4 linked regions of the Homo sapiens genome follow. The protein of the gene in region 1 interacts with the protein of each later gene in a biochemical or structural test. Each region holds a gene or a part of one and is shown on either strand. Other genes may lie near its edges. The genes, in order: SNCA, SIAH1, SIAH2 and VAMP2.

Region 1 (6,876 bases):
TGAAATTACACAAGAAGCCTATCGCAATCTCACTACCTCGTCTCTCTCACAGGTTTACAGAAGGTGAGAGGAAGGTGCAGATAGAGAATAAGAAGCAGGTGGCTCCAGCATCAACATTACATCACCCCTTGTGTTCACAACAAATACGGAATATTATCCAAAGATAATAAACGTTGTATTTTCTTAACTTAAACACATTAAATCAGTCCTCTCTTTAATCAATTGTTAATGGGCAGCATCTTTATTTTCATGCCATTCTACTCTGCTGTCTTTGCTATAGCACAAGTTTACCACATACCATACCTAAAAATTCAGTTGTTCTATGGGGGTAAACAAAGTCTAGGTTAAGCATATATTTCATAGAATGTTAATCTATAGCAAAATTAATGAATTAAATCCAGATAAAAGAATCCTATTATGGTCTGGTAAAATATTTATATTTCACTTAGCAAAGAGAAAACAAAACATGAATATTGTAGTTATGAACAGAATATGCATGTTAGTAATGCTTCCAAATATGTTATTACTTCATAACTTCATATTTCTTATGAGGTACAAGCCATTCAATTAGTTTAACGTTATATTCAGAGAGGCTAAAGATTTACTGAAGACCATGCTGTCCATCAATAATGAAAAGAAAAATTAAAAAAACTTTATTTTAACTTCTAGTTCCCTTCTTTGTACTTGAGCAGCTTTCCCTCCTTAAGAATACAGACCTAGAACATATGCAATATCACTATCAATATTATGTGTAATTAAAAGTTCATTGGATGTTTACTGTGTTCAAGGCATTTTAAGGAGTGACAAGAGTTAAACATATAGTTGTAATTCAAAATGACAACGAAATTAGTTTACAGTTTTCTTTTTTTGTAGGTAGTAAGAAATCATCTCCCCCTATTGAGGAATACCAATATAGAAAAGGCAAAACTTTAAATATGAATGAACTGTTTCATAATAACATAAGTTCTTCTTGATTTCCATTGTCACATCCAAATTTGAAGGCTATTTCTAACACAGCTGGGTTCTACCTTTTTCCTTCTCACTCTTTACCACACCCAATCTGTGAGGCTTCAGACACAAACTGCTAATTCAGGAGACAATTGTGCCTTCTGTAACAGTTTCTGCTAAATTGTCTCAGCTCTGCCACTTAAAATAGCTAGGTGATCTCAGCATATCACCAAAACTCTTGGAGCTCAGTTTCTCTGTCTATAAAAGTTACATAAAATGTAATTGATCTGCTTGTTATGACTAAATAACATAGTACATTAGTCCTTTGCCAAAGGACTAACAAATTACCAAATAAAAGTTTGGAATCATGTTAAACGTTTATAAGAAGTGCAACTGTCCAGAAATAATTCTCTCACATTGGTCTGTTGTAATGAGACCTAAAATATCTCATTTTATTTACCTCTTTGACTTAAAGCACTAGGTCTCAAGGAGGTCATGGTTATACTATAAATATGTCATGTGAAATAATATATTAAATAATTGTTGTAATACTCTATTGAGATACTAGTTGTAAAGAGGCACAATGGAAAACTTATACTATTAACAGTAGTAAAAAGAAACAACAAAAAGCAATAAAAAACAAAACACCCATTCATGCAACGACATGAACGAACCTCACAAATATTATACTGAGTAAAAGAAGTCAGACAAATATAAAACAAAGTTTATACTACGTGATTAGATCTTTATGACATTCTAGAATATGCACATGAAGGTACAAGGTAACTGTCTGGAATGATGAAAATGTCCTGTGTCTTCAAAATAGTGTGGGTTACACTAATGCATGGCTTTTTCAAAACTGATTTAAAGGGACACAACATCTGAGCATTTCCCTAGGTGTAAATTACACTGCAATTTTAAAGAATCATCTAATGATATTGTGGTTATTTTTAAACAGTCCTTAAATTTTGTGGATGCATACTGAATGTTTACAGCTGAAAAGATATATATAAAGCTTGAATTTGGTAAAAAAAAAAAAAAAAGAGGGAGGATTGGTAGTGATAAAGTGAGTGGACTTATGGATGAGACATGATCAGCCATGCATTGAAAAAATGTAAAAGTTGGATGATCTTCACATGAGAGTCCTTTATTCTGTCTACTTTTGCATATGTTTGAATATTTCCCATAACAAAAAGTTGAAAATAGAGTGATCACATGAGTTAATCTCCTAATTTACAAAAAAGAAAACTGGAAACAGAAGGAGAACAAAACTTGTTCAAGGTCTCAAAGCCAGACAGCAAACTAGCTCCCAAGTCCAACCTTCTTGCTCTGGTCCTAAGCAAACAAAAAATATTAATATGAGCTACTGCATTAAGGAAAGTCTGCTTTTCCAAAGGGCAGACCAATAGTTCAAGGAAGAGTTTAAATAATAAATATTTGTGATCTTACTTTCATGCTTTTCTATTTTCCACTGAACACATATGCATTATCTTCTATATGTCTTTTATGTATAATCATTTGCTTCCTGTTCCTTGTGGTTTTAAAGTTGTTTTGTATGTTTAAATTTGATTTTACTCAAATTTCAGAACCCAAATTAGCGCAAGAATCAGACAAAGCATAACTTTCTATAAATATAAAAACAATTAAAAAAAAAACATACAGCAAAAACGAGTTGTTGTTTCCCCCCTCCTCTTCCAGTGCTTAACTAATCTTCCGAATCCAGGCACAGAAAGCAAAGGCTTTCTGCTAGTGGGAGGAGCTTGCTTCTCCATTCTGGTGTGATCCAGGAACAGCTGTCTTCCAGCTCTGAAAGAGGTGAAAATGTGTTAAGCGATGCAAAAATTGTCTTGAAGTTCGCGTGTGTATGTCTGTGTGCATGTGCGTGTGGTGGGTGGGGGGAGAGAAAAGGGGGTGTCAATTCTGAGGGCAACGAGAATCAGAAGTCAGAAAGGTGAGTGGTGTGTAGCATCTCCCTTTCAGAAGGGGCTGAAGAAGAAATTGGATATGATGGTCCGGTAGGCTAAATCACGCTGGATTTGTCTCCCAGATAAAGGGAGGTCTGCAAAGTAAGTCCCATTTCTAGAGCGAAAAGCCTTAGGACCGCTTGTTTTAGACGGCTGGGGAATATTTATTCCTTGTTCCACTGATGGGAAAATCAGCGTCTGGCAGGCGCTGATTGGTGGAAAGGAAAATGGTGATAGTGGCGTGGAAAGAGGATTTGCTGAGCCTTCTCCTGCCTCCTCAACCTGTGACTCTTCCTTAGTAGTCTCCCTTTCACCCTCAGGACCCTTTCCGGCTCTTCCTAGATTAAGAGCAAACGAAAACCTTGAAGATATTTGAACTAAAGCGACCCCTAACGTTGTAACCTGTGACCGTGATTAAATTTCAGCGATGCGAGGGCAAAGCGCTCTCGGCGGTGCGGTGTGAGCCACCTCCCGGCGCTGCCTGTCTCCTCCAGCAGCTCCCCAAGGGATAGGCTCTGCCCTTGGTGGTCGACCCTCAGGCCCTCGGCTCTCCCAGGGCGACTCTGACGAGGGGTAGGGGGTGGTCCCCGGGAGGACCCAGAGGAAAGGCGGGGACAAGAAGGGAGGGGAAGGGGAAAGAGGAAGAGGCATCATCCCTAGCCCAACCGCTCCCGATCTCCACAAGAGTGCTCGTGACCCTAAACTTAACGTGAGGCGCAAAAGCGCCCCCACTTTCCCGCCTTGCGCGGCCAGGCAGGCGGCTGGAGTTGATGGCTCACCCCGCGCCCCCTGCCCCATCCCCATCCGAGATAGGGACGAGGAGCACGCTGCAGGGAAAGCAGCGAGCGCCGGGAGAGGGGCGGGCAGAAGCGCTGACAAATCAGCGGTGGGGGCGGAGAGCCGAGGAGAAGGAGAAGGAGGAGGACTAGGAGGAGGAGGACGGCGACGACCAGAAGGGGCCCAAGAGAGGGGGCGAGCGACCGAGCGCCGCGACGCGGAAGTGAGGTGCGTGCGGGCTGCAGCGCAGACCCCGGCCCGGCCCCTCCGAGAGCGTCCTGGGCGCTCCCTCACGCCTTGCCTTCAAGCCTTCTGCCTTTCCACCCTCGTGAGCGGAGAACTGGGAGTGGCCATTCGACGACAGGTTAGCGGGTTTGCCTCCCACTCCCCCAGCCTCGCGTCGCCGGCTCACAGCGGCCTCCTCTGGGGACAGTCCCCCCCGGGTGCCGCCTCCGCCCTTCCTGTGCGCTCCTTTTCCTTCTTCTTTCCTATTAAATATTATTTGGGAATTGTTTAAATTTTTTTTTTAAAAAAAGAGAGAGGCGGGGAGGAGTCGGAGTTGTGGAGAAGCAGAGGGACTCAGGTAAGTACCTGTGGATCTAAACGGGCGTCTTTGGAAATCCTGGAGAACGCCGGATGGGAGACGAATGGTCGTGGGCACCGGGAGGGGGTGGTGCTGCCATGAGGACCCGCTGGGCCAGGTCTCTGGGAGGTGAGTACTTGTCCCTTTGGGGAGCCTAAGGAAAGAGACTTGACCTGGCTTTCGTCCTGCTTCTGATATTCCCTTCTCCACAAGGGCTGAGAGATTAGGCTGCTTCTCCGGGATCCGCTTTTCCCCGGGAAACGCGAGGATGCTCCATGGAGCGTGAGCATCCAACTTTTCTCTCACATAAAATCTGTCTGCCCGCTCTCTTGGTTTTTCTCTGTAAAGTAAGCAAGCTGCGTTTGGCAAATAATGAAATGGAAGTGCAAGGAGGCCAAGTCAACAGGTGGTAACGGGTTAACAAGTGCTGGCGCGGGGTCCGCTAGGGTGGAGGCTGAGAACGCCCCCTCGGGTGGCTGGCGCGGGGTTGGAGACGGCCCGCGAGTGTGAGCGGCGCCTGCTCAGGGTAGATAGCTGAGGGCGGGGGTGGATGTTGGATGGATTAGAACCATCACACTTGGGCCTGCTGTTTGCCTGAGTTTGAACCACACCCCGAGTGAGCAGTTAGTTCTGTTGCCTACGCCTTTCCACCATCAACCTGTTAGCCTTCTTCTGGGATTCATGTTAAGGATACCCCTGACCCTAAGCCTCCAGCTTCCATGCTTCTAACTCATACTGTTACCCTTTAGACCCCGGGAATTTAAAAAAGGGGTTAATCTTTTCATGCAACTCCACTTCTGAAATGCAGTAATAACAACTCAGAGGATTCATCCTAATCCGTGGTTAGGTGGCTAGACTTTTACTAGCCAAGATGGATGGGAGATGCTAAATTTTTAATGCCAGAGCTAAAAATGTCTGCTTTGTCCAATGGTTAAATGAGTGTACACTTAAAAGAGTCTCACACTTTGGAGGGTTTCTCATGATTTTTCAGTGTTTTTTGTTTATTTTTCCCCGAAAGTTCTCATTCAAAGTGTATTTTATGTTTTCCAGTGTGGTGTAAAGGAATTCATTAGCCATGGATGTATTCATGAAAGGACTTTCAAAGGCCAAGGAGGGAGTTGTGGCTGCTGCTGAGAAAACCAAACAGGGTGTGGCAGAAGCAGCAGGAAAGACAAAAGAGGGTGTTCTCTATGTAGGTAGGTAAACCCCAAATGTCAGTTTGGTGCTTGTTCATGAGTGATGGGTTAGGATAATCAATACTCTAAATGCTGGTAGTTCTCTCTCTTGATTCATTTTTGCATCATTGCTTGTCAAAAAGGTGGACTGAGTCAGAGGTATGTGTAGGTAGGTGAATGTGAACGTGTGTATTTGAGCTAATAGTAAAAAATGCGACTGTTTGCTTTTCCAGATTTTTAATTTTGCCCTAATATTTATGACTTTTTAAAAATGAATGTTTCTGTACCTACATAATTCTATTTCAGAGAACAGTTTTAAAAACTCATAGTCTTTTAAAAAATAATCAAGAATATTCTTAAGAATCAAAATCATTGATGGATCTGTGATTTCTTTTACCATCATGAAAAATGTTTGTCAATTTTAATCCATTCTGATTTTTAAAATATGACTTTGATATGCCCCTGTGATGTGTATAAAGAGACCTATTTGTGGCCCTAAAATGGAAAGAACAGATTAGTCTTTGATAGAGTTACTTCATGTGATCATTTGGTCTCTGTGAACACTGAGGACAGAGAAAAGTGCTTGAGGGCTGCTACTAATCTCTCAGAAACATTTGTATAGTTCATCCATCAAATGACACACATACTAAAAGAATAAAGAAATTGATGCTTATTACCTACTTGTTCCTAAAGTTCCACCTTGGGGTATACACCCAAACTCTGACTCTCTTTTCTGTAACTTGAACTGTATTCAATTGAGTGTTATTTTACAAACCACTTTGAATTCCTTGGAAAAGAATAGACACACACTCTCATCCACAGGCATAGACACACACACTCAACACAGACACATTGCCCATTCTTCCTCTCTTCTTTCTCCTCTGAGCTTTTTCACATTCTCTGGTGGCAACTATAGCAGTAAGAGTCACAGGATGAACAGTCAGGTGGAGGATGACCACATTGAGTTGCCTAGCTGAAACATGTGCTCCGTCTATGTCTGCAAAGTGAAAGAAAGCTACACTATCTCTTCAACATAGATCAGTGGGGGAAATTTTATACTTGGGATGATTTATATGAATGCATCTCATCAAAGTTCACAACACATTTTTTTTTCAGTTTTTTATTTTCAGTTTTTAGAGTCAGGGCCTTGCTCTGTCGCCCAGGCTGGACTGCAGTGATGCTATCATAGCTCACTGCATCCTTGAATTCCTGGGCTCAAGTCATGCCCCCACCTCAGCCTCCTGAGTAGCCAGGATTATAGGCATGTGCCACTGCCTCATTATTTAGACTTTTCTTATGTTGACTTAATCTTCCCACAAATCTTCAATTAAATTACTTTTTTTCTACCTTAAAACATATTTTCAGAAAGTCATTGAAATAGGGTGTTACAAGAGGAAAAAATTGATGAGTTAATTTTAAATATTTTATG
Region 2 (7,023 bases), on another chromosome or scaffold:
TTACTACATGCAACTGTTTCCTGTATTTAACAGCCTTTCTTTTTATTTACCTTCATGTGTCTAGCTTCCACCTACCGAAAGAGTTTTAGGTTGGCAGACAGATGGGTGCCTTATTTTCTGTGAAACTGAAGTTTTAAACACTGGCCAGAAAATGTTTGATTGCCATTTCAACACATGGAAATAGTTACATTGATGCCTAAATTGCCATTTTCTGCAAAAAGCTGTGCAATGCTGGTGTCAAAGACTAGACAGTCGCTATTCATAATGGCTGTTGCAATTCCTTCATGAATAGATCGAGGAGTCGCTTCCCAAGTCAATCGTCGCCTATGACCATTTAGCTCAAGTCGGTAAGCAAAATTTTCAGCTTGCTTGCGTGTTCCTATCAGCTGTACGATTGCGAAGAACTGCTGGTGACCATCGTATTTTTCCTGTTTCTCTAAGACTAACATGAAGTGAAAGCCAAAACAGGACTGCATCATCACCCAGTCAACAGCACCAGGAAGATTAATGTCTGTAGCAAGAAAAACTATATCCTCTCCCTGTAGGGTTGTAATGGACTTATGCTGATGCATCAGATGGGGCATTACAGCATCCAGAGAGCCTTGCCATTTACAGGAAGCACCAGGGCACGGACAGGAATAAGGCCTAAACTCACAGAGCTCTTCATGGTCTGCTTTTTCTGTGTGTGGCAGAGTTATTTCACATCCAGAAGACGCATATTTACAGGGGAAAAGTACTGAATTAGCCACTTTCTCCATAGCCAAGTTGCGAATGGATCCCAAAGGGCCCCGGCAAGTTGGACAACATGTGAGCTTTGGGCGACAGTTGCTACAAACAAGATGGCCACTCTGACATTGAAGAATGGGCGGTAACACATAGTCAAAGCAGACTGGACACTCAAAAAGACTCGCCAAGTCATTGTTGGATGCAGTTGTGCCAGTCAGGGCAGGCACCCTCTGGGATGGTGGACACTTCGAGGTACCGGTAGGTAATGCTGTAGCAGTCTGACGGCTCATTTCTGAAATAAATACATAAGGAGGCAGGAGAAAAATAATTATAACCATGACTTACTTTATAAATAATGTTTACATGCCATAAGTCCTTTTAAAGTTTCATACAAAATTTACTGAGCAAAAGAGGAAGAAAAATAGGATTAAAAAAGATATTAAAAAAATAAAATTACACTGAATGTGCACTTTATTAGGATCTGTACACTGGATAAGCTCTCTTTTCAAAATGTTCCGGAAAACATGTGGAACTCCCTTAATCGTCTTTGGATAGACTACATAGAATAATAAATGCTAAAATAGAAAATGGACCATAAACAACTAAAGAAACTATACAAGGAACTGAAGTTTAATCGAATCCGTTTTGCTAGGACTCTCCCTGAGGCTCCCTTACTCTATTTCTTTCTAATTTGGAGTCAGCTGTTGATAGGTACAGGGAGTTACAGGTGAACTCCTGTATAAAATCGGCACTCTGTATCCACACGGTCTGCATCCGAGGACTTCACCAGCCATGGATTGAAAATATTCAGAAAAATTTATAAAGAATACAAAATTTTTAAAATACAGTCTATAACAACTATTTACATATTGTTTACATTGTATTAAGTAATCCAGAGATCACTTAAATTATACAAGAGAATATGCACATACAAATATGACACCATTTTCTATCAGGGACTTGAGCATCCTCAGGTTTTGGTATGGAGAAGGGGGTCCTAGAACTAATCCGAGGATACCGCGGATTGAATGTAGTTCCAATGCCAAAGAATCAGAGTATCACCTTCCATTAACTCTTCTTAATGGTAAGCAATTATCTACTCTAGAGGTGTATTTTGGAAATGAGGGGAAGGGTCACAAGGGGAAAGGTCTGCTGCCATCCCATTATCCATCTCTATCTAATTAAGTCTTCCCCCCAAATTATCACCAGCCAGGTATTAATCTTATTTCCTACTGATCAGTGCCCACCTCAAGAGTGAGGGGATGTACTCGCTAGTGAAGGTGGCGAAAATATAAAAATAAATAAAAACACAACTAAGGTGAAGTGAGGCATGGGAGAAATGGAGGGCCATCTCAAAACTTTTTAGTCTGGTAGAGAAAGTATATCTTTCTGTTCTACTTTCAATCCACAATATGTGTCAGACATAATGAACAAAGGAGGACAGTCAGGAAGAGACAATGAAAAAGGAAAGAATAAAGATGATAGCACGGCAGAGATATATGCCATACTGGGGGTGGGGGATGGAGTCAACAGGTGAAGAACCCCTTGCAGCCTAGGGTTCTCCAGCGTTGCTGAAAACATTCATCAGCAGAGTAATAAACATTATTTAACAGGTAAATATCATCTGGAAGAAATAATCGACAATGTAACTAGCCAGGCTGAGTCAAAGATAAAACAAGCAACTTTTCCCAGGAAGCTACCTGGGCTGGAAAATGGCAGGCCACTATTTGTCTTGGGGGTGAAAAAAAAGATCAGTCAATGTCCTAAGACTGCACTCCTAGTAACTCTACTAAGCCATAATCTTTTTTTTTTTTTTTTTTTTTTTTTTTTGAGATGGAGTTTTGCTCGTTGCCCAGGCTGGAGTGCAATGGCGCGATCTCGGCTCACTGCAACCTCTGCCTCCCAGGTTCAAGCAATTCTCCTGCCTCAGCCTCCCAAGTAGCTGGGATTACAGGGGCCCGCCACCATGCCCGACTAATTTTTGTATTTTTAGTAGAGACGGGGTTTCACCATGGCTGGTCTCGAACTCCTGACCTCGTGATCCACCCGCCTCGGCCTCCCAAAGTGCTGGGATTACAGGCATGAGCCACTGCGCCCGGCCACTAATCCATATTACAAAATTAAAGCCTCAAAATTAATGTTTTATCTCAATTATAGTCATTCTGTTGCAAGGAACTTTTAAGAAGCAATGTTGGTTACCAATGTGACCAAATAAATGCAACTTAGGTTTAGATTACCCAAGTGGTTACCAACTGATAGCTTAAATGAGGGCTGAGGGTGACGGAAAAAATAAAGATTAATTCCACGTCACTAAACGGGTATTTTAAAGTTCCAGAGGCAACAAAAGTGACAATTCCATCGTAATGTGTCTCATCATATGGACTCAGAACATGAATCAACTCTCAATCTGAAGCCCAGTGTGACCCAGGTATTCTGTCCCCTGACAAAGGACTATAAGGGAGCTCTCCTGTAATCCAGTTTCCCTCTCAGTAGATTCTTTGTACATATGACATCCATTTTATGTCACTTGTAAAACAGTGGGCTCAGCATTGCCAAAACACCCTGGCTGTATGCTGTATGCCTACTGCATGGTCCAGTTTACTTCAGTAAGCAGCGTAACAATTACAAAGTGGTTCCTTGGGCAAAAAACAGTCTAGTCAACCAATGCCTTTCAAATTACTAAATCAAACCAAAGAATCACATCCAAGGGCAGTAAACTCAGTTTATATTTAACACAATATAGCTACGGACCAAGCAAAACACTGTTGTTCACAATTTCTTGACCTAGCAATAGTTATACATTTATCAACAACAGTTCGGGCTCACATTACAATATATCTTTGCCATTTTCCAAACACTACAGAAAGCACATTTTAACTCCTATTCAAAGTGTGAAAAAGAAGCGAAATGTGAACGGTATTTCTTGGGAACGGAGGTATTACAGGACAGCAACTGCTAAAGCCTCTCAAAGCTCCAAGGGTGGAACCCAGCTCCATCTTGAAACAGAAAAGGAATCCCAACCACACAGGCGCCCTGCAGTAGGAACCAAGGACAGCCCTGCAGAAGTCATGACGTAACCTGAAGTTTGATTTAAACAGAAAAAAGAACAGCAGCCCAAATGAAACATGACTGAGAACCTCGGAAACGTCTCGATTCTGCTGCAGCCATTCCCTAAGCCAGGCAGGTTCCACTGACTAATAGCGTTCAAGTTTCACAGCCTCAGCAAACCATCCTCTTAATGTCAATACCTTTTCTCTTCCTTGTCCTGGCCGCTGGTAAACATGTGAACAAGACTCCCCTCCAGGAGTACAGAGAAGGTGGAGTAGCCTTTCCCGTCATGAGAAGTCAGGCCACGCATTGCGTTTCCCCCAAGAAGTAAAGGAACAGGCCCCTCCTGGGCTCTTTCTGCTCCTAAGCACAGAAGACCCAAATTCGCGTCTGAGGTCAGGATCCAAATACCATTTACTTCTCAGAAGCACCAGTTACAGAGGTGGAGAAAGGAAGCCTTTCCATCCCCAGGAGGCAACCACACCTCCCTGTGAGCTCAAATTCGACTGCATCTCCAAAAATGGGAGCCACAGCTGCGCTGTCCTCCAATGTGCCCTAAGCTTTCGTCTGTCTCCCAAGTTTGTTTTCTCCAGATTCACTGGGTAGGGTCCTGCCCAGCTCCAGTGGAGGCCACGGATGCAGGGGGCGACGCGCTGGCTGAGAAGGAAGTGCGCTCCCTGAGCCAGCTCAAGAGTTACTGCAGGAGCCTGCCTGCCGGGAGAGCCATTTGGAGCCTCGGCCGGGGCTGGGCCTGCGTTGGGAACGCCTACTCCAACCCGGGGCGCCAGGGCCAGTTCAGGGCGCGCGGCGCACAGGGCGATGCCCGTCTTGCTCGCGCAAGGGTGGGGCCGTGCCCGCAAGCCCCGCCCCCCAGCCAAAGGCCGGGGGCGTGGGGGAGCCCCCGCCACCCCGCCGTTGACCCCATCCCACCCCAGCGACATCGAACCTTCCTCAGCATTTCCACCAGTTTAAAATTAGGTGGAACCACGCTATTTTCGGTAGGTCAGAACAGTCGAATATCGGCAGTTTCTTATGGTTTCGATCTAAGAGCTACAGCGTATCTGGGAAATGCGTGGCCACACTGGCGCTACGCTCCAGGTTTATCGTGCGAACTCTAAATTTTTAGAGTGAAAACATTCTCCCTAATTCATTCAACGGCTATTTACCGGGCATCAACTACCATATTTCCTCAATTCTAGCTCACTTCATTTCTACTCCTATCAGCACTATATTTTAAACTCTCCTTACCCACTGTGAAAAGACTTTGCAGGAAAAGTAGTAAGCACACTTCTGCCACATTAAACTCCTACTTAAACCTCCTAAGAGATTATACTCTCTTCCCACTCTGGGAAAGCCATCTTAAATGGCCTCATTAAACGCAGAGTAGCTTGTTTTGTTTTTAAACAAGCACTACCCTTGCCCCAATAAAGTCCTGCGCCTCAGATTTGCATTGCATCAGCTAGTGCGTGCAGAGGTTTAACCTGTCATTACATCATGCTTAGGGCAGCCTCAAAATGCAGCAAGAGTTGGCAGTGAGGAGTGAACCCAATGCAAGGAATTGCAGATTACCCACTTTCAGCAGGAAATTTTAACTCTAACCACTTCCTCACTCTATTAAGTGTGTTCAATCACCTCAACCTCGTTTTACAATACAGGCTACACAAAACAGCATTAGGAAAAGAAATATAATTGAAAATAGACACAGTCAGCCCCACAACTACTTTTTTTCCTTTTTTTTGAGACAGGGTCTCACTCTGTTGCCCAGGTCTGAGTGCAGTGGCACAATCTCCACTCACCGCAGCCTCGGTCTTCTGGGCTCGAGCAATCCTCCCACCTCAATCTCCCCAGTAGCTAAGACCACAGGCTGGCACCACCACTCTCGTTAATTTTCTTTGTAAAGATAGGGAGTCCCCATGTTGCCCAGGCTGGTCTCGAACTCCTGGGCTAAAGCCATCAGCCTGCCTTGGCCTCCCAAAGTGCTGAGCCACTGTGCCCAGTCTATATTTTTATTTTCTAATATTTTTTCATTCGACAGGTCTTAAATTTCCCTAGAGAAGAAAATTTCATATAGAGAAACTCTTCCAAACAGAACCAAAATGTATACAACAAAAAGATGACTGATTATTTCTCAAGCAAAAGATATTTCACTGTTTACCAAACTCCAAAAGATCTGTACAGAGCCTTACAGCACACTCTGAAAACCACTGATCTATGGACAGGCCCCTCTACTTAATTAAGTCAGAAAAGTGGAAGCATTCTAGAGTCATCTACACTTGGATTCAGACCCCGGCTCCACCAGTTGTTGAGCTGTAAAACTGGACTGTTTCCAGCCTCAACTGGCTTTTGTCTAGATTGAGATGGGTAATTTATGTGTATCATGGATGGTACATATTCCAGAATATTTAAGTTTTCAGCTGAGACCTGATTTAATTGCCAAGTCATCAATTAGTCACAGACTCAGAATTTGTAGATTCCAAGAAACACACTCCAAAAGATGCCTTAACCTTGCAAAGGTGATCAAACATGTCTGCCAAGAATCAACCACCATTTAATTTTTAGCACAATAAACCTTAATTCTCAACTAGGTAGAATATTTACACTAGTTTTACAAAAAGCTGAAAAGTTCACAGAAGTACCTTAAGACAAGCCCATAGAATCCAAAACTGGCAAAAATCCAAAACTTAGCAAGAATGCACTATTACCTACACTTTCTAAAGCCTACGTCCCAAGCCCAGTTTGGTATATAGTTTAAGTAGATGTCAATCTAAACAAAAACATTTTAGAATCAGCCTTTAATGTTGTCTTAGTAATTTCAGAGCATTCAGCCATTGCTTTACCACCTTAGCATACTTAACAGTAGAAAGATAAACTTTTATTCTCAATTCCACGTGGTAATCTTTGTTTCCTTTTATAAATTACTTATAAAAGTTTAAAATGGAGAAATGTAGTCAGATATGGAAAAAAATCATAATATATTGTAAATGAAGTTACAAATAGAACACAGACGTGAGGGACGGGGTGAGAAACCAAGAGGGCTACAACATCAGACCAATGAATCAGTTACCTATATGAGGATACTGGTGATTTTTAGCTGTATTTTCTCCAAAGGGGACAATAAACTGCTTTATAAAGATTAGTCTGATTAACAACTGTGAAAACAGTCAAAATGAGCAAAAAGTAAAACATGTTTATTCTTAATTTAGTAAAAAACAACAACAACAAAAAACAGCTGGGCGTGGTGGCTCACGC
Region 3 (7,578 bases), on another chromosome or scaffold:
AGGTAATCAGGATTACAGGAGGTGCTAAGGGTGTAGCCCTCATGGAGAGGGTTGGTATCCTTAGAAGAGTCCTGAGGGAGCTTCCTTCCTATCTCTGCTACGTAAGGACACAGTGAGAAGGCTGCCATCTACAAACCAGGAAGCAAGCCATCGCTAGACACCTGTGGCACCTTGACCTTGGTCTCCCCGTCCTCCACAACTGTGAGAAATAAATGTTTGTTATTTAAACCACCCAGTTTATGATATTTTATTATAGCAGCTCGAGCTAAGACAGCAAGCGAGAGGAACGGAGGGACAGTAAGACAGAATTCATAGTCTTTTTTAACCTAATCTCAGAAGTGACATTCTATCACTTTGACCATATTCTGTTCACTTAAAGCAGGATCAGCCCTCATTCACAGGAAAGGTGTTACATATTGGGCGACACCAGGAGGAGGGATCCCTGGGAGCCTTCTTAATGATGACTTCCTACAACTCTCTTGGCCTCTCTGTACCTGTTTTGTCATCTATAAAGATCTACCCTATAAAAGACATTGTGAGAATTAAGAGAATTAAAATATGTAAAGTACTTGGAACACTCCCTGGTACAGGGTGAGCACTAATTAGCTAAGTGTGGATACAAAAATAATGCAAATACATAGAACTGCTCTTAGTACACAGTGCTAAGTCCATGATGGTTGTTCAAAAAAATGCTTGAATTAGGAGTACTTGAGTATAGGAGTTTGAGGCCAGCCTCGGCAACACAGTGAGACCTCTTCTCTACAAAAACTAAAAAACTAGCAGGGCGTGATGGCACGTGCCTGTAGTCCCAGCTACTCAGGAGGATCCTTTGAGCCTGGGAGGTTGAGGCTGCAGTCAGCCATGATCCAGCCACTGCATTAAGCCTAGGTGACAGAGTGAGACCCTGTCTCAAAAAAAAAAAAAAAGATTTGAATTAAGAGACCTACAATTATTCAAAAGAAGTTTGAGCATTTGGAAATTACCCCAGAAACAGATGAAGTTAAAAGTTCCTACTATAATTACCAGGGGGCCTTACATCACCTCCAGATTTCCCACAAGCTTCCCCTGATGAGGAATTTCCATGCAGCAAGCTCCAATGCATACCTGAGTCATCTCTAAAAAGCCAACCACAATTTGCTCTGCAAATGCACATTTGCCTGATGGCAGAAGTTGCCTGATTTGCAAAACCACACAATTTGTAAGTTACAGAAAAAAGGGCAAGAGCTTGTCTGCCTAGCTGGAGCATTTCTCACTGTGCTCAGCAGTTTAGTGAAATTAGGAACTCACCTGTGAGGTGTTTTTTTTAAGACTCACCCTGCTATTTTAAGGAAAGAAAAGGCTACTCAGTACACCCCTAGTCTTTCAAGCTTAGCATAGAGCAGATGGGTTAAGGAGAGGTGTCCTGCTTGACATATGCAATCTGGGACTCAGTAGGTGGGCGAATGAGACCAACCTCTCATACAGTAGATGTGGTAAATGAGTCATGAATCAGGAGATAACAAAAGGCTGGACCCTGCTCCCCCAGACCACAAAGTCACTCACTAAACAGGCCAAGAAGCAGCAGCGACACTCCAAAGGGTAAATAAACCTCCCAACAACTCAACTCAGCACACATTTTGAGTACACGCTAAATTCGACCTCTGAGCGGACTGCCCGCTGGAAGAGGAGGCTCTAGCTCATAGTGCCCGGTATGCAAAGGTCACCTTTCTTTGTTTCAAAAGTCACCAAGGAAGGAGGAAGAAGAAAGGCGACTGGGAAGACCAGCCTGGTCATTGATGTGGCTCACATAGCAGACCTATCCACTCTCCCCCTGCCTACCTTCAGCAACTGCCCAGAGTTTTTTTGTTTTGCTTTTGTATTTTAATTACCCTGGTTGACTTAATCAGGTGTGCAATGATGTGAAGGAGGAAGAAAGAAGAAATTTCTCTATACCAGGGGAGGCATCTGCCAGGGTAAGAGTGGATGGGTTCGCTGTATTTTTAGAAAAATAAACCAAATTCTCTCTGCAGAGAATTGCTTTTCCTGTTATTTCTTTCAACACCTCCCAAACCAAATTGTTTTCTGAATGACCAGGGCCTATCTAGCTGGAACACTTAAAGCTCGTGTCAATGGGGCAAGGGTGAGGACTCCAGTCTCCTAATGAGAGCTAGTAAGAAGCCGTGGGGATGGAGGTCATCACACAGAGAGGCTAGAAGTGGAAGGAAAGAAAATGTGTTCCATTAATAAATTCCAAATGCTTTGATTTTAAATTAAGAATGAAAAATATTACATTTCCTCCAATAACAGTAAAACAGTAGGTGATTTTTGTGTTATCACTTATATTTTGTGTCATAAAAAGGTGAAAATGAAATAAATAGAACATGATTTAATTTTTCTCTCTAGACCAGCTAAGGAAAGAGTTTATGTAAAGTTTGCCCACAAAATTTAGTGCTTTATTATAGGCTGAACAACTGTTTTCTGACTCTGTTGAGTGTGCTAATCTTAACTGTTTAACAAGACTGTAAGTAGGAATCAGGCATAATTTAGAGGCATACAGACTAGTAGTTAAGAAGGGCTCCTAGCGTGTTCCCACATTCTCAGCTGTGTGATCTTGAGCAAAGTAACCTATGTCTCGGTTTCCTCAACTGTAAAATGGAGATAACAGTAGTATTCATCACAGAGAGTTATGATAAATACTTAAAACTATCCATGCCCAACATACAGTGGGCACTCAATTAACATTAGTTATTATTTTATGCTCCCTACCTATCCAAAAACTCAGGTTCAGCCATGTTACTAAAGAGCTTCCAAAAACCTACAAAACCTAGTGTTGTTGTGTGTTCTTAAAAAAACAAACAAAACCCTACAGTGGTTTACCCCTATCATTGAGGTAAATGTCTTATTAAGCCAGTTGAGGCTCCCCTTGTGCTAACGCCACACCCCTACACTCCCGTTATATCCCCTCCAAGTCCCAATGCAATCCCAGAATACATGCTTTCACTCTGTGCTTTTTAGCTCCTGCTATAATGCCTGCCCACCCCGTGGTATCTGAAATCCTTCTTCTCCCACGAGTGCTTGGTTATTGGGCCTTGCTCTCTTACTAGAATGTAAACTGCATGAGAACCATTCTCAGAGCTCCAACAGTAGCTGACACATGATAAATGCTCAGGAAACATTTACTGAACGATTGAATACACCTATTAAGTTTTTTCAAGATTTATACCAAATTCCATCAATTCCATGCATGTATTCTTTCTACAGAAGCCCTTTGTAAGATTAAACTTTATTTCTTCTGGGCTCTTACGCCATATTTCTTGGACAAATTGTATTCATTCATTTTAAACATCCACTAATATTTTTAAAAGATAAGAGCTAATGTTTAAACAGTGCTTATGATGGGCGAGGTTGTTTTAAAAGCTTGAAATATATTAAACTCATTTACTCCTCACTGCCCCACCTATAAGATAGGTATTTTTTTTTCCACTTTTACAGTTGGAGGGAACCATTTTTCACTCAGTCCTAACAGTTGGTCCTTACCTCTGTGTCTCCTATAAATTTCCGATTTCTACCTAAGGTAACCCTTTCCCCAATTCCGGAATCGTTGGCTCAAGCAAAGTCTGCAGAAAAACAATTTTAACTCGGAGCACACAGTTACATTTGGACATGCGGTTCACCCCGGGCAACCGTGCCCTCTAGCGCTTCTGCTGGGCGCGCAGGGTGGCCCTACGCCTCGCAACAAAGACTCGGACTTCGGCCGGCTCTCTACCAAGCGGACGCAGCGCCTTACACTGGAGTTTCACCCACTGTCTTCAGAGACCTCACGACCCAACCTACGTTTCTGACATTTCTAGATGATCTCGAACTCTTAGCCAACGCTGCCCATGAGCTCCCTCCTCGGCCTGCTATACGAGCCAGGGGCGCTCAATTCAACGAAGCTTCCTCCTGGTCCGCTGGGAAAGGAATAAAGGGAGCTTACATCCTCCCCACCGCCCCCCTCTTTACTCAACCCCACCGTTAACTGTACAAAACTAGGTCCTGTGCCCGCTGCAGACCCAACTCGAGCCCCTCGCCCTGCTCCCACCCAATGCTTCTCGTCCTGACTCCGAACACAGAACGCGGGTGGCCGCTTCGCCCTCTTCTCCTGCGTGCTGGTGACTCAGCCCTGAGAAGAGAAACCTCTCGGTTTTTTCCGACTAGTGCAGGGGCGCCCGCGCCCCGCCCCTGCCCGCCCGCGTCCGGTCCCACCCACCGTCCACGCTCCCGCCCCGCCTGAAGTTGCCTTTCTCGTTTGAGCTGAGGGACGCGTCAGCCAGGCACCCCGGGGTGTGGCCAGAGGACTTCGGCGACGCTTCCCCGAGAGTAGCCCCCCTCCTCAACCCAGAAAAGACAACCCCGCGGGGCTGCAGCGAGCCAGGCATGCTCACTGGCGCAGGCCCGGCCCGCAGCCCGAGCAGGAAGCGCCGGCGCTAGGCGGCCCCCTGCGCTGCCAGCTGGAGCCGGGCGGAGCCAGCGCCCCGGCGCAGGGTGGCTCTGCCAGTCCCCGCGCGCCTGGGCGGCCGCACACGTGTCCAGGCGTCACGTCCGCGCGCGCCCCCGGGGCTTGCGTCAGCGGCTGTTCCAGAAGCGGGTGGGCCAGGGCTCTGCGCACCGCTGGGGTTCGGGGCCCGGGACGCCGCCGGGAGGAGGGCACCGCGCGGGGTCCGACGCGGAGGCGTGCTCGGAACGCCGGGGGCTGCGGAGTGCATCAGCGCGGTCCAGCCCTCCGCCTGCCGGGCGCCGAGCGTCTCCGCCGCCCGGACCTGGGCTGGGCGCCGTGGCGTTGCCTCGGAGCTCGCTGCCCGCGGGGCGCGCACCGCCTTGACCCGGGCGGCCCCGCGGCAGGCAGGCGCCCGCAGTTCCATGGTTGGTTCGGAGCGCGATGAGCCGCCCGTCCTCCACCGGCCCCAGCGCTAATAAACCCTGCAGCAAGCAGCCGCCGCCGCAGCCCCAGCACACTCCGTCCCCGGCTGCGCCCCCGGCCGCCGCCACCATCTCGGCTGCGGGCCCCGGCTCGTCCGCGGTGCCCGCCGCGGCGGCGGTGATCTCGGGCCCCGGCGGCGGCGGCGGGGCCGGCCCGGTGTCCCCGCAGCACCACGAGCTGACCTCGCTCTTCGAGTGTCCGGTCTGCTTTGACTATGTCCTGCCTCCTATTCTGCAGTGCCAGGCCGGGCACCTGGTGTGTAACCAATGCCGCCAGAAGTTGAGCTGCTGCCCGACGTGCAGGGGCGCCCTGACGCCCAGCATCAGGAACCTGGCTATGGAGAAGGTGGCCTCGGCAGTCCTGTTTCCCTGTAAGGTAAGCCCAGGGACAGCCCACGTACCTCCGCCGGTGACCTCAGGGACTCCGGTATCCGCCAGCCCACTCGCAGGCCCGGAGAGGCGGGCGGCATCTCTCATTTAAAAAAAAAAAAGAAAAAATGTTTACACTTCGTCCACCCTCCCTCAAGCCCACTTTGGGTGTAGGTCTGGGTTGACATTTACCGAGTAATAATTGTTAATAGACAATTAACAGATTAATTGGCATTTGCTGATCGTTAGAACATCGTAGCTCACCCGGCCCAATGCCCGCGTCCTCTGCAGACGTGTATTCGGGTACTCTCGGTAGGGCTGGGCCGCACCAGTAAAACTTGGACCGAGAAACTGACTGTGTGGGGATTGAGGAGGGAGGAAACGGGCGAGCTAAACGCCCCCTTTACCAGCGCTGGGCTCGGCTGAATTGATAATTGGAGTCCTGCACCCCGCGCCTACCGTCTGCGCACCCCTGACACGTGGGAGCTCTCGGGATTGTAGCTAAAAAAAGGGCGCCTACAGCCTGTTTTCCTCTAGCTAGAAGAAAACCCTGCAAGCCACGCCTTTTTCTCTCCTAGCCTTCCAAAGACTGGGAAGGACTGAGGAGTTGTGGCTGCGTTGTTGTACTAAGTGGGGTGAAAACAGTCAATCAAGAAATTAACAAGGGCACTCAAGAGCTGTTGTTACAGTTGTTTAAAGCTCATCACTTCATTTTTTATTTAATGTAAAAAGTTTTCAATGCCCTTGCGAAAAATGCAAGCCACCAAGACAAGAAGTAAAATGAAAGACCAAGATCTCTCCCCTCCTTTCCCACCATTGTTAGGTTTAGTGTGTATCTTTTTAAACTATATATACATACACCCTCGCAGCTAAATATAGAATCATAGATGTCAGTGTATGTCAGGGAGGTTTTTTAATACCCACACATAGATGTAAGTTTTTCTCCAAAAATGGCATCTGCAACTTGCTGTTCTTAAATTCATATTATCACACATATTTCTCTATGCCTGAAACCTAGTCGACTTCATTGTATTTTAAATGGCTGCATAGTATTGCATTGTGTGGTCATATTATAACATTTGTTTACCTGCAGCTATTACGTGGAAACCTTCAGGAGCAGTTTCACAGACATACTTGTCTACGTTATAACCTAGAAGTATACTGTAAAGTCATTTTCTGAAATTAGAAGTGGAGATAATGTCACTAATACTTTCCAGTTTTTTTGTAAAAGTAACTTGCGCTGCCTCTTGGGCCATTTAAGCTGTCTTGCATTTCTCCTTGGTGCTGCTTATTTTATAGGACAAGAGCTCATTTTTAAATTAAAAATAATCCACCAGAGAATTCAGGCTTGGGACTCAGGTCAGTAAAATGAGTGCTTTAATTTGGTCTGCTGCCCTGCTGCAAATCAGGTTTAAAATAGCATATTTAAATAAGAGTTTGAATCGGTGTTTGGACTAGGGTGTTTCAGGCAACCTTAATAAATTGCTGTTAACCCCTCCTCATATAGTGCTTACTAATTCACTCAGCCCAGTTTCTCAAAATTTAGATAAAGTATTTGCATAGTTGTCTTAGGGTTGTGAAAAAGGTGACAACCTAGTGGTTGGAAAAGGTTTGGTGGTAGTTAACATAGAGTGGCTATTTGATGCTTGAGATATATTGCAGGGGTGGGGGATGCCCCATAGGATTTCTGGGGAGCCATTTTCTCACCCCTTTACTTTCCCTTAAACGCGCAGCGGCTAACAAAAGAAATGGCTTTTAGGTGAGTTTTAGTTCACAAATGAGCATTTGATATTAGTCAGTAATCCATAATTTGTTTTTAAAATGTAACCATAATAGAATTGTGTTGTTCCCAAGAGAAAGGGAAGGAAACAGTTATGCTATATGGAGCATGAAGTTTCACTTTCAGGATCTAGAACTCTGGTTCCTATGAAAGCATACGTTCTTTCCTAACGTGAAACAGGCTACTGAAATCAACCTTGAAGAGTAGTTCTGGGAATCAGGGGTTCTCAGCCTTTCTGTACATGTCAGTGGTTTTCTGAGTCTCTATTCTATAAGAATGCAGTGGGGTAAAGCTATTACTTTGCAAGCTGAAATTTAAAAGGGCCAATTATTCCCCTGCAGACCAAGAACCAAGCTTAGGATGTGATCTTGGGGATGCTTTTGTGTGTGCATGTGTGTGAGTTGTATAAAGCTGGGGTGTGTGTCCCTCACCTTTGGTTGATCAATAATCCAAACTATTGGCAGGGCAGCTCAGCCAGTTAGTCTGGATAA
Region 4 (7,193 bases), on another chromosome or scaffold:
CAACAGGAGCTTGTTAAACCCAGTGAATCTCTAATGAATGGAGGGTTGGAGAGTGAGGGACCGGAACCAGGAGTCCTTTCACGCACCCAATCCCAGGAGATTCTGATCTGCCTATGTCTTCTCCCACCCATACAGGGCTCTGGCATGTGGCACCCCCACCACCCACACTGCCCTGCTTCCCAGTGGCCAGGGGCCTGGGCCTGCTCTGCTGGCTGGTTCCCTGGTCGAACCAGTAAAAAGTGATCAGTGCTTCGCCAGCCCAACTAGGACTGTCCTTACAGAATACTGGGCACAAAGGTCCTGCCCAAACACATCCTTCCCGTTAGCAGTCTGTCTGCCTGCTATGCACTCACCATAGTTTATTATTCATTTGCCTGCCTCGTTCCTGGCACTGTGCTTGGTACTTGTTCAGAGAGAACTTCACATATTAAAAAGATACCACTTTATGTGTTTACATTATGCTTTAATACAAAAAGAGACACCTTCTTGACCGGGTGCATTGGCTCACGCCTGTAATCCCAACACTTCAGGAGGCCAAGGTCGGCAGATCACCTGAAGTCAGGAGTTTGAGACCAGCCTGGCCAACATGGCGTAACCCTGTCTCTACTAAAAACAGAAAAATTAGCAGAGGTTGTAGTGAGCCAAGCTTGTGCCACTGCACTCCAGCTTGGGTGACAGAGGGAGACTGCCTCAAAAAAAATAATTAAAAAGGCCGGGCACAGTGGCTCACACCTGTAATCCCAGAACTTCGGGAGGCCAAAGTGGGCAGATCACCTGAAGTCAGGAGTTTGAGACCAGCCTGGCCAACATGGCGCAACCCTGTCTTTACTAAAAATAGAAAAATTAGCCAGGCATGGTGGCGGACGCCTGTAATCCCAGGGACTCGGGAGCCTGAGGCAGGAGAATCTCTTGAACCCAGGAGGCAGAGGTTGCAGTGAGCCGAGATCACGCCACTGCACTGCAGCCCCGGCCGACTTCTAAACCAGTAATTGTCTGAAGAGAAAAAAAAATTACGAAATAAGGCCGGGCATGGTGGCTCACGCCTGTAATCCCAGCACTTTGGGAGGCCACGGTGGGTGGGTCACCTGAGGTCAGGAGTTCGAGACCAGCCTGGCCAACATGGTGAAATCCCGTCTCTACTAAAAGTACAAAACGATTAGCCGGGCGTGGTGGTGCACTCCTGTAATCCCAGCCACTTGGGAGTCTGAGGCAGGAGAATCACTTGAACCCGGGAGGTGGAGGTTGCAGTGAGCCGAGATCGCACCATTGCACTCCAGCCTGGGCAAGAAGAGCGAAACTCCATCTTAAATATAAATAAATAAATAATAATAAAAATAAAAAATAAAAGAAAGCGTTTATGAAAGTGTGGTCTCGGCCAGGCGCGGTGGCTCAAGCCTGTAATCTCAGCACTTCGGAAGGCCAAGGCGGGCGGATCACGGGGTCAGGAGATCAAGACCACCCTGGCTAACACGGTGAAACCCTGTCTCTACTAAAAATACAAAAAATTAGCCGGGCCGGGTGGTGGGCGCCTGTAGTCCCAGCTACTCGGGAGGCTGAGGGAGGAGAATGGCGTGAACCTGGGAGGCGGAGTTTGCAGTGAGCAGAGATCGCGCCATTGCACTCCAGCCTGGGTGACAGACAGAGACTCTGTCTCAAAAAAGAAAAAAAAAGAAAAAAAAAAGAAAAAGAAAGTGTGGTCTCTGTTGCCTACATCACCATCACCTTGAGTCCTACATCCTTTGAATGAGTCTTGGGGGTGTGCCCTAGAAAATCATTGGCCAATTCCCGAAGCCAGTACATGTAGAAGCCAAATCTGAGTTATGCAAATACATTATTTTTCTATTGTTCAACTTACCTCTATTTGGGTCTCCATTCTACCTGCCTGCAGAAAACATTCTCTCAGTCACTTCCAGGTGAACTCCGTCATCCCACTCCTTCTCCCACCTCCACCATTGATCTAAATTTGGGGAGTTCCTCTGAGCCACAGCCTAGGTGGGGTGGGGTGGGAAGGGGCTGCTGGATGAGAGTCCTCTTTCTGAGATGAATCCTCCTGGGCCCTTCATCTCCGTGGGTCACACATGCCCTCATTTCTACTCTGCTGCTGCCGTCCCCACGATCCAATAGCAATAGCACGACCCCTGGCCTTGACCGTGTATCTGGGGCTCTGTCCCTTCCACATCACCCCCAAACCAGCATCAAATGTCTTGTCTGGCTCTGCACTAGGCTCCCCTCAGTTAGTGCAGGGTGTCCAACTGGGGGCGGAAGGGCTTCCTGTGCCTGCCTCTTCCAATCCTCCATGTCTTATTTATACCCTGACAGACACTGAGGGTTTTGAACTTAAAAGGCTGGAATTTGGCATCTTTGTTCTCTGACTAGAAAGAGGAATCATTTGAAGACCAAAAAGCAGGAGCCAGCATCTCACAGCATGATCTGAGACCCCCGTGGAAGCTGCTCTTTTCTTTCTCATCACATAGGCTGAGCCACCCGGGACTGTCAGTGCACAAGGACCAGGGACGCGGCTGCTCCTCTGAGGGGGAGGAAGCCAAGAGTATCTTCTCTTAGATTGGGCTGAGTTCCCACACCCAGCACACACATTCCCTGCTCACTCACCTCCCACAGACAGCTGGGAAATGACACCTCTGGTGACAGAGCCACTCTCCGGGCTTCTGTGGGGAGCGGGTGGGGCACTGCAGTGGGGGAGGATCTCACACCCGGAGGCCCTGGGAAGCCAGGGTGGGGGAGGGAGGAAGCTGGTTCCTGTTTGTCTTAGAGATCAAGGCCATCAGCCTCCCTGCACCTTCCAGGGATGTAGTAAGCACCCCCACCCCAGGGCCAAAGGGCCTCGCCTAAAATGCCTCCTGCACCCTTGAGGCTTGCTTTGACCCCCTGCACTCCACCAGAGCGACAGCTCCCCTGGTCCCATCTTCTCTGACAAGCTGGGTGGGAGTGTATACAGCTGCTGGGTGTGCTTAGAGGGCCTAATGGAGACCAGCCAGGGATAATCTCCTATGTTATCCACATCAAGCCATTTAACAAATATGGATTTAGTACCTACATATGCAATGTATTTGGGGTCCAGAGAGAGGAGGGCAACGGTCCAAGGTCACACCTGCGAGGCGAATACGCATGTAAAGCAGCACCTTGTAACCTGTGCCCACTGTGCCTACTACTAAAGAAAAAAAAATGAGAGAAAAAGAAAAAAGGCTTTTTTTTTTTTTTTGGCCCAGGCCCTGTGCCTGGGACCAAAGCCTGAGCCCTTTCCTGCAGTCGGGTCGCTGACCTAAGCCTGGGGCAAAGCTAGGTCTTGGCCAGTCAGCAGCCACCACGTGAAGCAGCCCCTGCCCCCATCACCCCCGGCAGCCTTGTGCCCTCCTCCTCGGGGTCCTCAGCTCACCCCACCTCAGTCGGGCCTGCTCCAGCGGTTAAGTACCCCTAGTCTGAACCTTAATCGTGAGGCGGGGCAGCCCCCTCCCCACACCCTGTAGACACTCCCCCGTCCTCCGCCCCCTGGACTTGTTTGGGCGGGAAGAGCCTGCCTCATCTTTTCTTCCTACCCTCCTACCCAGTGGCCAGGGACCCCAGGCTTCCTCTGAGACATCCACCAGCGGTGATGGGTTGGGACCAATCTCCCCCACTCCTCTCCACCCTAGCAGTAAGGTCCCCGCTCTCGATACTGCCCCAGCACCTGCACTGGCCCTCTCTGATTTCCCAACTCCAGCCCATTCCAAGTGCTGAAGGCGGGTCGCTAGGTGCTGGGACCTGGGCGCGGGGCAAGACCTTGGGCTGTGTGGGGTGCAGGCTGGTTTACTGGGTTCACGATTGAGGGAGTGGTCTGGGGGTTAGGTGTAGGGCCAGGCTGCGTTGTGCTCTAAGGGGCAGGCGGCAGGCGGTTTGGGGGGGCTGTGGTCAGACAGGGTGGGGTGGCGGTGGGTTTGGGGAAGCCGCAGCAGCCCGCCTTGGGGTCCCGCGAGTGCCGAGGGAGCTGCCGGGGCATGGTGGCGCGGGGCCCGTGGTCCTGCCCGGCACGACCCCCGCCCCGCAGCGCCCCGCAGCGCCCCGCCCCCGCGGCCCCGCTCGCGACGCGTCTCCCGCGGCGCCCCGCCCCCGCCCGCAGTGCCCGGATGCGGGTGACGCGCGGCCGCCATCTTTCCGTCCCGGGCAGCCAGCGCCAGTCGGAGCCAGCGCGAGCCGCCGCCGCCATCACTGCCGCTGCCAAGTCCTCCACCCGCTGCCCCCGCCATGTGAGTCGGCCGCCCGCCACCCTCACCGCGCTTCCCTGCGCCGGCCGCCGCCCTTGGCAACCGGCCGTCGGGAGTGCCCGGGGTCTCTCCTGCGTTCCCCGCGCCCCGGGGCCAGGCCCAAGCCGGTGACTGCGCGCGGGCGGCCGAGGAGCCCCGCGTCCCGGGCTGGCCGGCTCGGGCGATGGCCGCGGGAAGGAGCGGACCCAGTGTCCTCCTGCCCCTCCCCGCCCCTGTCACCGCGGCCGCCTGTCTTTTCGGGTCGACCCGGATCGCATCTGTGAGGTCGCCCTCAGTTGACAGGCGGGGAAACTGAGGCCGGGGGGGCCTCGCTCAAGGTCACGCAGCTCATCGGCGGCAGGGCTGGACCGAGACCAGGGCTTACATCGGGTGGCCTTCCTCCCGAAAAGGAGGACTGGAGGGACGAGGATGGACAGGTGGATGGGCGGAGCCCTGGCTGCGGGGCCGGGAGGCTGCAGGCCCTGGGTCTTAATCCGTCCCTGCTCCTCAGGTCTGCTACCGCTGCCACGGCCCCCCCTGCTGCCCCGGCTGGGGAGGGTGGTCCCCCTGCACCCCCTCCAAACCTCACCAGTAACAGGAGACTGCAGCAGACCCAGGCCCAGGTGGATGAGGTGAGTGTGGGGGGAGTCAAAAGCAGTAGGAGGGACCCTGGGGGTTGGCGTATAGGTGTAGGGGCCCATGTTGGTTTGGGAGTGATGACAGTTCACGCCTGTGGGTTTGCGGACAAAGATACCATGCCCCATCCCTGTCTCCCTGTCAGCACGCACTTGGAAGGGCGCTGGGGGTGTTAATCAGCTTTGCTAGCCTGGGGTGTGCCAGCCTGGGCAGGTGTGCTCTGGTGATGGACAGAGCGCCTGAGGTTCCATAGAGGGAGGGTGTTGCTATGACATCTGAGATGTCACCAGCATGCCCCTGATGTGTGCTCCTTGCATGTCCCCAGGTGTGCTAGGCATGTTCTGTGTGTCCTTGGCATGTTAACCTGGCAGTATCAGGGTGCATGTTCCATGTGTGGCACGGTGGGCACATGTTTGAGGATTGCCCTCACTGAGGTGGGCCTTGGCACACCCCCCTGCCTCGTGGGCCCTTCTCCCAGGTGGTGGACATCATGAGGGTGAACGTGGACAAGGTCCTGGAGCGAGACCAGAAGCTGTCGGAGCTGGACGACCGTGCAGATGCACTCCAGGCGGGGGCCTCCCAGTTTGAAACAAGCGCAGCCAAGCTCAAGCGCAAATACTGGTGGAAAAACCTCAAGGTAAGGGTGGGGACAGGAAGGAGGACAGGTGGGTGAATGGGGTATCATAGTTTGTCTTACTGATCCTCGCCTCTCACCCCCAGATGATGATCATCTTGGGAGTGATTTGCGCCATCATCCTCATCATCATCATAGGTGAGTAGGGTGAGAATGGCCGGGGCCCTTTCCCTGGAGAGGTTTCCCCAGTGGATTCTAGGTTTTGAAGGTCATTAATCTAGTTTTTACTCTTCAGCCAAAAACACATATAGCTGCTAATGGCAATTCTGATTCATCTAGAGCCAAAAACTTTGATGTTATTTAGCCTGCATTTTGCCTAGTTCTTGGCAGTCTTGTTAACATTTGGAAATAGGAAAGCTGGTGTATCCATTGAGGACCCTTTAGGCCTAAGAGCCCAGTCTGAGAACCCTGGAATTGAGGAGTGGGAGAAAGGAAAGGACCAGGGGCTTGAGACATGACCAGGAAGCCAACCACCCCATTATTTGAGAGCTTGCGGTCTCAGAGGCTCAGAGGATTAGGGTCTGTGGCTTCAAGGCCATACCATGGAGCGGAAGGGACCTCAGAACCTACCTGTCTAGCCCCTTGCTTTGTAGATGGAAAAACTGAGTCCAAGAGAGGGTGTCAGCCAGCTGGGGAGTGGGGAGGATTGGAGCAGGGCCAGGCCTGACACACTGCTTTCTTGTTCTCTCTCTTTCTCTCCCCTCTCCCTCTTCCTCATCTTCTTCCCCTCTCTCCACAGTTTACTTCAGCACTTAAATCCCCGAGGAGTCTGCCCTGCCTAGAGAAGGGCCTCTCCCCCAACCCTCAGCCGTTCCTCCACCTCTCAGCCATATCTTTCAGCCCCCACTCCCCTGGATCCGTGTGTGTGTGTGTCCGTGTGTGTGTCCCCCTGTAAATAGCCAGCTGTTATTTATACATATATAATATTATATATATTTGGTCTGTTTGTAGTTTTATTACTAGATGATTTTTCCGGTTGTCCTTAACACCCCTTCCTGAGGTTCCCTTCACCCCTCTCTCTTGCCTTCCTTCCCTTTCCCTTTCTTCCTGACTAGCCCCAAGTCCCTTCATTTGCATCTGCTATGCAATAGTCCCTCTCCTTTCCTTCTTCTTCCCTCAGATTTAGCTGATCCTTCCTCCCACCCTGGCCTTCCTTTCCTCTTTCCTCCTCACTCTCCCCGTCATGCTCCCTCTGCCCCGCCCTCAAAAAAAAAAAAAAAAAAAAAAAAACAACAGCACCTGTCCAGGCTTCCTTAGGTACATCTTCTTTGTATCCATTGGGAGGCTCTGAGACTGGCCCCACTTGGTCCTAAGAATCCCAAGGTCTTTGGGAGCGTCCAGCATGTTAATTAGCGTATCATTACATACTGCTATCCCTTTCCATTTCTTTTTGTTCCATCACTCTTCTCTCAACCTGTGTTTCTTTTTTTACTGAGGAGTTAGTCCCCATTAGTTCTTGTATCACATTTTCATTTGCACGACATTACTCGCAGGTGGTGGGGAGCCTGGGCTTTTGGGGAACCAGGCTGCTCTGGTCCCCAGCATTGCCTCCTCCTAGCCCCTCTAGTCCAGTTTGCCTCCCTTACCCTCATTTTCCAAACCTCTTGTACCCTCCTCTCCCTCCCCCAGCTGGTATGTAAGTGTCTTGAAGTTCAGTATGTTATGATGGACCAATAATTCTGCCA

The links.
Region 2: the proteins of SNCA (region 1) and SIAH1 form a complex in vitro, tested with the Homo sapiens proteins (3 studies listed by BioGRID, with this or other methods).
Region 3: of the proteins of SNCA (region 1) and SIAH2, one has a biochemical effect on the other in vitro, tested with the Homo sapiens proteins (4 studies listed by BioGRID).
Region 4: the proteins of SNCA (region 1) and VAMP2 form a complex in vitro, tested with the Homo sapiens proteins (3 studies listed by BioGRID and IntAct).

What each region holds. Positions count from the first base shown.
Region 1 is NC_000004.12:89,834,139-89,841,014, reverse strand, and holds the start of SNCA (alpha-synuclein), read left to right. Parts: upstream 1-3,853; 5' UTR 3,854-4,053; exon of another isoform or gene 4,054-4,272; intron 4,273-4,280; exon of another isoform or gene 4,281-4,614; intron 4,615-4,774; exon of another isoform or gene 4,775-4,888; intron 4,889-5,322; 5' UTR 5,323-5,347; coding exon 5,348-5,468; intron 5,469-6,876. UniProt on the Homo sapiens protein: Neuronal protein that plays several roles in synaptic activity such as regulation of synaptic vesicle trafficking and subsequent neurotransmitter release.
Region 2 is NC_000016.10:48,361,413-48,368,435, forward strand, and holds part of SIAH1 (E3 ubiquitin-protein ligase SIAH1), read right to left. Parts: intron 4,476-7,023; exon of another isoform or gene 4,066-4,475; coding exon of another isoform or gene 3,975-4,065; intron 1,592-3,974; exon of another isoform or gene 1,019-1,591; coding exon of another isoform or gene 1,017-1,018; coding exon 168-1,016; coding exon of another isoform or gene 65-167; 3' UTR 1-64. Other genes in the region: LONP2 (lon protease homolog 2, peroxisomal), read left to right, coding at 65-184. UniProt on the Homo sapiens protein: E3 ubiquitin-protein ligase that mediates ubiquitination and subsequent proteasomal degradation of target proteins.
Region 3 is NC_000003.12:150,760,169-150,767,746, reverse strand, and holds the start of SIAH2 (E3 ubiquitin-protein ligase SIAH2), read left to right. Parts: upstream 1-4,577; 5' UTR 4,578-4,897; coding exon 4,898-5,314; intron 5,315-5,339; exon of another isoform or gene 5,340-5,410; intron 5,411-5,571; exon of another isoform or gene 5,572-5,810; intron 5,811-7,578. UniProt on the Homo sapiens protein: E3 ubiquitin-protein ligase that mediates ubiquitination and subsequent proteasomal degradation of target proteins.
Region 4 is NC_000017.11:8,159,926-8,167,118, reverse strand, and holds the start of VAMP2 (vesicle-associated membrane protein 2), read left to right. Parts: upstream 1-4,170; 5' UTR 4,171-4,239; coding exon 4,240-4,241; intron 4,242-4,242; exon of another isoform or gene 4,243-4,667; coding exon of another isoform or gene 4,668-4,675; intron 4,676-4,749; coding exon 4,750-4,870; intron 4,871-5,352; coding exon 5,353-5,511; intron 5,512-5,594; coding exon 5,595-5,646; intron 5,647-6,247; coding exon 6,248-6,264; 3' UTR 6,265-7,193. UniProt on the Homo sapiens protein: Involved in the targeting and/or fusion of transport vesicles to their target membrane. Major SNARE protein of synaptic vesicles which mediates fusion of synaptic vesicles to release neurotransmitters.